2 separate regions of the Homo sapiens genome follow, and region 1 is linked to region 2. The links come from fine-mapping of genetic effects on gene expression. A gene starts in region 2. The other region holds a variant in brackets. All regions are shown on one strand. Distances are between the middles of the regions. Region 1 overlaps HAPSTR1 (HUWE1 associated protein modifying stress responses). Region 2 holds the start of HAPSTR1 (HUWE1 associated protein modifying stress responses).

Evidence for each region. PIP is the estimated chance that this variant, and not a neighbour inherited with it, causes the effect.
Region 1: its variant is the best candidate, but not a certain one, in a credible set for the expression of HAPSTR1 in regulatory T cells (Schmiedel 2018, PIP 0.71).

Annotation. Positions count from the first base shown.
Region 1 is chr16:9,116,689-9,120,923 of GRCh38, reverse strand. HAPSTR1 (HUWE1 associated protein modifying stress responses) reads right to left here. Exons shown (of 4, transcript NM_014117.3): 4 at 1-4,235. The coding sequence ends at 4,012. Among named protein-coding and RNA genes, the nearest start is that of HAPSTR1, 27 kb to the right of the region's middle. The variant A/G (reference allele first, on the strand shown) is at 1,794.
Region 2 is chr16:9,088,966-9,093,486 of GRCh38, reverse strand. It overlaps HAPSTR1 (HUWE1 associated protein modifying stress responses), which reads right to left and starts at 1,843. Exons shown (of 4, transcript NM_014117.3): 1 at 1,217-1,843; 2 at 486-566. The coding sequence starts at 1,442. RefSeq lists enhancers at 374-543, 2,813-3,678 and silencers at 694-1,193, 1,404-1,743, 1,914-1,983, 2,772-2,902.

The sequences.
Region 1 (4,235 bases), 28 kb before region 2:
CTTATCTGTACAAGGGAATACTATTCTGTCACAAGATTTCACCATATTTGAAACCCCGTATCTAACAAAAATACAAAAAATAGCCAGGTGTGGTGGCAGGCACCTGTAATACCAGCTACTCGGGAGGCTGAGGCATGAAAATTGCTTGAACCCAGGAGGCAGAGGTTGTGGTGAGCCAAGATCGTGCCACTGCACTCCAGCCTGGGTGAGAGAGTGAAACTCCATCACAAAAAAAAAAAAAAAAAAAAAAGATTTCACCATATTACTTCTAATGTATAAAAGACCTGTATATACTATAAGCTGCTGTGTGGCTTGATTTTTGCTGTTTTAAATCTTTTTTTTAAGCACTAAATAAAAAAAAAATGAGGGGCCATCGAAAACTTGACTTGCTACGTCACAGGCTACTGTCTAACTGAACTTCACAAGGAGCCTGCAGATCCCATTATAGGAAGTAAAACCCTGGATATCTCATCCCATCAAACCCAACAGCACAACACACGGTCTGACAGCCAGCCTGGGTGCTCGGGCCTGCTCGTCTCTCAAATGCTGCCCCCACTAAAACATCACACACCTCAAATATTCCAAAGGGAGGCTAGAAGCTGGCCTTATGGGGTAAGGTCATCTAAACCATCAAAGCCGACAACTTTCCAGAAGGGGTAGCAGGTACCATAAACACTTATAACTTTAAACAAGGGGTTGCTCTGGAAGAACCTTTCTAGTCACTTTATTCCACAAATCCAGAATGTATCTCTGAAGATTCCCATCCTCACCATGACTAAATACCTCAGTCACCAATCTAATGAATGAAGCACCAGGTTACAACATACTACATAAAGTAAAATGCAATGAGATTAATCTGCTGACGTAGTCACCACTAGAGGTAGTAGCCAGGCCAAAAACTCAATCATTCTGTTCATAATTTTCTAAACTTATGGCCCCATTTCAAAATCATCTCTTGGCGTCTTGCACTGGCCTCTGAGGCTGACTAGCCCTCTGGGTTGGATGTTGGCCATCCCTCTCACTATAAAGGAAGTTAGCCAGTTTTCACTGTTGAATGGAAATCTTCAGGCCCAAAGCCACAATTATTCGAGTTTAATGAGTTCCAGTAGCCCTTAGAAAAAAACATTTAGAAAGCTAATTCTTTTTTAAAAGCCTAAACTTCATTTGATTGCATCAAAAAGTTATTCAGATGTGATGACCAAAACAAAACTGCAGACAAGCCCCATGGTTTTTTTGTTTTTATTCATTTTATGATTAAGGTGTTTATCACTACTCCAGTTGGGTAAACCACATTGAAGAATCTGACTGCAGGTCTTTAGATTCAGCCAAATGCTTTCCAACAATTTTGCTCTAAAAAATATTAAACATTTTAATACTTCAGCCATGCTCAGAACGCTGCAGTCTAAGGATGAACTTCAACTTGCCCATGCCAAGTTAGGGCGACAGGAGCAGAACTAAGGAGCTATGACGTCTAAAAGAATCAGAGAATCTGGCTTAAGACGAAGAGAGCTTCTGTTCCCCAAAACTAAACTGTCTAGTTTTTAAATCCACCCTTAACCGTTCAAGAAACTGAAAAAGTCAACTTGTTTTTAAAATACCACACAGGTATGCAATCTTCCATGATTTGTTTTGCATCTCAGCTAGCACAGGGAAACCCTTGAAAAACCTAGCTGTCAGAAGTTTTTCCTGAGGGAAATCATTACGCTTCTACTGCTGAGCTTCATGTTTATTCTGTGCGTCGGGGAAAGGAGAAAGCAATGGGACAGAGAAGGGAAAAGTTGCGACTGGGTGAC[A/G]AATTCATTAGGTGCATTTGAAAGTAAACGCAATGGAAAAAAGTAACAAATGCTAAAGTTTTCTAAAAGTTTAATGAAGCCAATAAGGCATATAAATTGTGTTCTGGCAGACATTAAGACCTGCTTTCTCTTACCAAAGAAAATGGCACGTTTTATCAAAATTTGACAATTCAGAGTAAAGGGTACTGAGATTAAGCTTCAGAGCACCAACTTAAACAAAACAACCAAAAAATTGTTATCCAACGTGGAAAGAGGAGCAAGAACCAAGGCATAAAGGGGAATTAAATATGTGTTCCTCCATCTCAAAATCCTTTTAGGAATAGGAGTTCTGGCCACTTGTGAGCAACACATTGCACCACCAAACCCCAATTCCAGAATCTAAATTTACGATAGAAAAACAAAGGTAACTCCAAACGCATGTCTTGTATATTCCAAAGGGAAGCTTGAAAGTATTCATAATACATAGGCTTGTCTGTTTCAGGTAAAATGACAGATTGCTATAATTCTTCCTGCTATTATAGTCAAACAAAAAATGACCCACTTTCGCAAAAGTTTAGAAATCTCTCACTTTCATTCCTAGTTTTAGTATGGAATTCACTTTTTTAAATAAGGGCTACATCTATAATGAATACAGAACTTCAATTCACACAACATTTCTAACATTCCATTCACATCCCACCCAGTCAATGAATGAACATTTATGGTTAACTCAGCAAAGTTTCTTCACAGAAAGATATTATTAAATGGCTGAAGAAATTGCAAACTTTAACAAAGTGCTGTGAGTAATTACTGGAAAAACCCTTACACTGATTTGCAATGGTCTTTTAAGGATAAAAATAGGAAGTAACTGATACTGGACTACAAGTTTGCAAGGAAACATTTTTCACTGTCCTACTTGATATATAATATAATAATATGATAGAATAAATTACAGTACCTGGCAGGCTGACATCAGTTCTTCATCTAAAAAAACACTATCATTCAGTTCAGGATATTAAAAATGAAGATGAAACATGCTCTAAAACATTGTAGCTACAAGAGGTCTTATATTTACTCAAAAGAGGAATCTATTGAGAACTTTTTATTTAGGTCTACCTAACAGCTAGAGAATCTCCATGCGATTCCATCTTTTCCAGAATGAGATTCCAAACTGAACTTTTTAGGAGAGGGATTGGAGGGACAGGGAGAGTTGGGTTTTGCTATTTTAAGTTGCAATCACATTATTAGTAGATAAAAAAGAGAGCTTTATCATCTTCCACCCATTCCAATGGAAACTGCACTAAGCAGGGACTCCATGAAAAATGTAAAATGATAGACTAGAAAACCTACCCCACCATCCATCTCCCTCTCCCTCTCACTAATACTGAACCAAAAAGGAAGCCCATTCTCAAAGTTCATGACCTCTCTACTTTAGGTCACCTCGAATGCAGTCTACATGTTTACATTTACCATAAGGAAAGTACCCCGCATGGGAAGTAGTGTTTGTCTTAAAACTGAGTACTTTAGGCCTACAGGGTTACTCTGGGGACAGTTTAATAATAATACTGCTACTTTAGAGCACTAACACACACAAAGTGAATCCAATAAAGCTCTGGGCATTGATTCAATATTTAGTATTAATTGCATGACCATCATAGCACCTCTTTACATCACACAATCACCAGAATTAGAAATTGATTTGAAAACTAAAAACAGGGCACAGTCCAATAATTAGAATTGCACACTGTTACTATATAGAAACCAGGTGCATGGTACAGTGCAGCTGCAAAAATGGAAGCCAAATCATGTTTTTAGACAATTTTAGGAACCTGGCAATACTGTTGAAGCAAAATACTCAACACAGCAGGAAATGGACCCAAAAAAAAAAAAAGCATTCTATAACCAAATAAACATCTGATATTTCCTTTCCCTTTGAGAATAAATACAGTTAAGGTCACTTTTAGCCTTGGAACGGATATATGTTTGCCTATGATGATCTTGCTAACGACTACACAATATCTGATGTCCTCTGCTAGGATTATAGTTTTAAGAAAGCCATAATTACAAGAGGCATCTACTATAAATACCTAGAACTTCCTTTTATGGCAACCACTATAGAATTCACTTGTCTTAAACAGTGAACAAGGGAAGATGGCCTCATGTTTCCTTTGCAATTATAGTATATGTTGAGGATCAAGTGGCTTTCAAGCAGCATGGTGGGTGTGAAAATGTTTGCAGTTTAGATCATTCTGTTGCGTTTATGGGTTGGTGAGTCTGTAATGACATCGCCACACTGGGCTGAGGTACGCTTTCTAGTTCCACCATTGTCCAAGTGGAGTGCCATTTCTTCTGATATGAAAGTGTTCAAATCGACATCATGGAGTCCATTTCTCCTTCGACTAGCATTCGATCCACTGCTTACATGTGTAGGAGAGCCTGGGGTACTCGAACGCACGCTTATAC
Region 2 (4,521 bases):
AATCTTTTCCATAAAGTTCGTCCCACTTCCGACTGTAGTACAAAAAACATCAACTCTTATCTTCCCTCAATGTCTTTTCCAGAGGGAGGCAAGGCTCAGCCGTCTTCCAGCTCAACGCTTCTCAACCTGAGCACTACTGACTTTAGGGGCATGATAATTCTTCGCTGAGAGGGGGCCGGGGCGGTTATCTTGGGCACTGCAGGACCTTCAGCAGCCTCTATACACTGGGTGCCCAACAACAGCCCCTTCTAGGAGAAGCCAACCAAAAACGTCCCCAGGCGTTGCCATCTGTCCCGGGGGGCGGAGGGAGGTGTCAAAATCGCCTCCGGTGGATCTAGCTAGAGCACCGCCGCGATTCTCAAGTTGCAAGGTATTCAAGGTTAGCAGCTGGGCTGGGGAGCAGAAAACACACTTGGAACGCAGGGCAGACACCCTGACGCAGGCGGCCCTTCCCTGAATCGGCAATGCAGCAAGGTTATCTTTACCTTTGTAGAGATTGGTGACGGCGGTGGCTGCGTTTTGGAAGGGGACCCAGAGAGAAAGTCCTGGCTGCTGACACACTCGGTCTGAAAAGCAAGCCAAAAAAAAAAAAAACCAAAAAGAAAAAAGAAACACACATAGAAAGAGAAAGAAAGAGAACAAGAATGTTATTTGCGCGTCAATCACTCCGGAACGGCCATATTAGGTTTCGCCATTTTGTTCAGGGGTTTCGGGATCCCAAACCCAGTGTGAGGACCGGGGGGGCAGGGAGGTCGCGGCGGGGAAAAGGGGATGCCGCAGAGCTCAGGGGCACAGATCAGGGACGAGCCGCGGCGCAGGGAAGCGCCCCCCCTGGCAGTCCCCGCCCCGAGGCCGGCTCAGGGCACAATGGGGCCGCCCCGCCGTCTCCCTTCGCCATTTTGTGACGGGGGCTCCTCCTCTCCCGTCTCCGGGCCGAGGGGGACACCGGGTGGCCGGGCCCGGAGAGCGGGGACCCTCGGACCACCCCAAAGCGGGGCTACCCCCACGCCGGCTCTGGCCTGTCCCCCCAACCCCGGGCCTCCCTCCCGCGGCGCCATCTTGCGGGGAGGGGGCGGCAGGGCCGCGGAGCCACCGGCCGGGATCCCCGAGGCCGCCGCCGTCGCGGCCCCCCGAAGCGGCCGCTGAGCCGATAGGGCCGGGGCCGGGCCCGGGCGGGGGCGGCCAAGCGGTACCAAGATGGCGGCGGCGGCCTCACCTTTGTAGAGCTGGGCCACGGCGGTGGCCGAGTTCTGGAAGAGGTGCCACAGCTTCTGCTGCTTGTGCTCGGGCTGCGCGGCGGCCGCCGCCTCCTCCTGCAGCTCGGGGGGCAGCTGCTCGTCCTGTTCGGCCTCGGCCAGGCACTGCCGCTCCCACTTGGAGAACCAGTGCTCGGGCCCGTGCTCCTGGATCTCGGCCTCGCCCTCCTCCTTCCGCTCCTCCATCCTCCGCGGCCTCCCGCGGCCTCGCCGCCACCGCCGCCGCGTCCTCCTCAGGCGGGGCCCCCGCGGGAGCGTCGTCGTCAAGCGGCCCGGCGGCAGGGCCTGGCGACCGACGGCGCCTTCTCCTTTCAGCGGCCCAGGCCTCCTGCACCCCGACGGCCGGCGAGCCCCGCCCCGCGGCCCCGTGCAACCAGGGACGACCCCCGCCCCAGGCCTTCCCACCCCCGGGCCCGGCCGAAGGTCGCCGCGGACCAGATAACCGCTGCCGCCCCTCGCCTCGGCCGCCGCAGCCTGTCTAACGCCCCCCCATGGCGCTGCGGCCTCCCCACTGCCGCCGCCGCCGCTGATCGCCGAGCCCTCCGCGCAGCTCGGCCTGCACCGCGGAGCCCACCCCAAGACTGAGCAACGTCGTCGTCGTCGCCACCGCCGAGGACGGCTCTGCGGCTGCTGGTCCCCGCCCTACCCCGCCCACATGCTGACAGGAGAAGCACCGCCCACTGGGCCCAAGCTACCCTGCCCGGTTGAGGCGTGGCCGCTCCAAGGGCCCCTATTAGTCGGATCCGGCCGGTTCCGCGTGGCGGCTTCTGAGCACAGCGTCGTGATTGGTTCTTCGGCCTGTCTGCCTGACGTAACCAATTGGCTGGGGGAAGGGAGTGAATGTCAGGAAGGATGAAGGAGGAGGAGGGGGAGGAGCTGACAGTGGTTGCGTCCGAGCCAAGGGGGCGGGTGGGGGGTGGAGGGGAAGAGCTAGAAGGGATGCGCATGCGCACTTGCTCGCTGCTCCCCCCCCCGCTCAGGGGCGTTGAGTGGGGATCACGTGACGAGGCCCAGCGACCGCACCCCGCGGGAGCTTTTCCGGCGTGTACAGGCCCTGGGGGGATGCAAAGTCGAGTGCGGCTCCTGTGCCGCGGGCACTGAGAGGTATAGTGGGTGGTAGCGTGCTTACTCCAGCCCCTGGGGCTCCCAAAGGGAGGAGGGTAGTAGAGAAAGTGAATAAAACGCCCAACTCGTGTCCAAGTTTGCAAAGCGCTTTCCTATTCTTTTGAGTACTCCCCCTTTTTTTTTTTTTTTTTTGAGACGGGGTCTTGCTACGTTGTCGAGGTCTAGACTGCTGGCCTCAGGCGATCTTCCAGCCTCCCAGGGCGCTGGGATTACAGGCTTGAGCCACCGCGCCCGGCCCAGAGTCCCATTTCTTAGACGGGCAAATCGACCATCACAGCCAAAGAAAAACTTCCGAGTTGCGAAGTCGGCTCAGTTGCCCCTGCGCCCTGGCGTCCCCCGAGGACGTCGCGCCTTCCGGGTGGACAGGACCTCGGCGGCCGCCCGCGGAGCCAAGGATAACCCGACGGCCGACGGTGCCCGGTGCCCGCACGCGTGCGTCTGCGCCTTTGCGCGCGCGGCGGCCCCCGCACCTGTCCCGAAAAGCACACTCCCAGGCCACGTGCATGCCCCGCGTCACGTACCGGCCCCTGCCTTCCCCGGCCCGAACCCGCGTGGCGGTGCCGAGCGCTGCGCCCGCCCCTACTCCCCCCGCAGTGCGCGATAGCTGGACGCCCCTGCGGCTGCGCGCCCCCCTCCCCTGTCGGGGCTTTCTCCAGGGTCTGAGGCCCCGGAGAAGGCAGCAACGCAGACAGGCGGTGACCGCACAGAGGCAAAACCCACCATCCCCACCTACATGCCCACGGGAGGCACCATCCGGCCTGGAGCGGCGGAGGGCGCCGGCCAGAGGCAGCGTCGCCCGCAGCCTGCGATAGTGCGCTTGCACAGAGCAAGGCGGCTTTGGAAGAAAATCTGACCCCCTCACCGCGGCCTGCAAACCCCTGCAGGATCTGGCCCTGGCGCCTCTCACACAATCCCCTACTTGGCTTGTACCTTGCGCACTCCCCCTCTTCCCCACCTCGCCTGGACGCTCACACACTGGCCTGCCTTATTTCCCTGGGACACTAGGCTCTTTCCTGCCCCAGTCTGCTATCTCTGGAAGCTCTTCCTCCTCCTCTTTCCTCAGATAGCTCCTGTTTAGGAAGCCTACTAGGACAAGCCTAAAGTAGCACCCTTCACACTGTCTCGTATTGCCTGGTTATATTATTTCATAACATCAATCACTATCTAAAATGCTAAATTAGGCCTGGCGCGGTGGCTAAAAAACAGGTTTCCAATTGTAGGGAAGAATATAAAGTGAAAAGCAAACAAAAATCATTCTACCTACCTCATTCTACATCCTCCCAATCCTATTCCCAGGAAATAACTTGTGACCTTTGAAAACGGAGTTATGTGTACGTCGAGTGTGTATGTGTGTGTGTACCTATATACAAGTATGTCCCTTCTTAAGGAAAAAAAAAGATGATTTTATGTGTACTATCCTACAAGCCTTTTTTCCTTAACATAATTTGGATGTCTCCACATTGGGACCTAAAGACTTATTTATTCTTTTAAAATATTGCAAATAATTTCATTGTATGGATTCACTACAAAGTATTTTACAGGGCCCCTATTGATACAAATTTAGATTGTGACCAGTCTTTGGCTATTATAAACAATGCCATAATGAACATCTTGTACATATGTAATACAGTGAACATCCTTGCATATATACATATGTGTATTGAATATATATCCTCAGAAATAGTATTTTAGAGTCACAAGGTATATGAGTTAAATATTTTAGGAGGGTAGGCATGGTAGCTTACACCTATAATCTCAACAATTTAGGAGGCCAAGACGCAAGGATTGCTTGAACTCAAGAGTTCAAGACCAGCCTAGGCGACATAGTGAAACCCAGTCTCTACAAAAAAATACAAAACACAGCCAGGCATGGCGGCACACACGTGTAGTTCCAGCTACTCAGGAGGCTGAGGCGGGAGGATTGCTTGAGCCCAGAAGGCATAGGTTGCAGTGAGCCGAGATAGTGCCACTACACTCCAGCCTGGGTGACAGAGACCCCATCTCAATCAATCAATCAATCAATAAAACTGCCTGCTGAGTGTACGATCAATGGTTGTTGATATGTCAATTTCTACATTTCTGCATTCATGGTAGCACGTGGGAAGTCCAGGCCTGCACATGTAGGTATGACAAAGGAGAG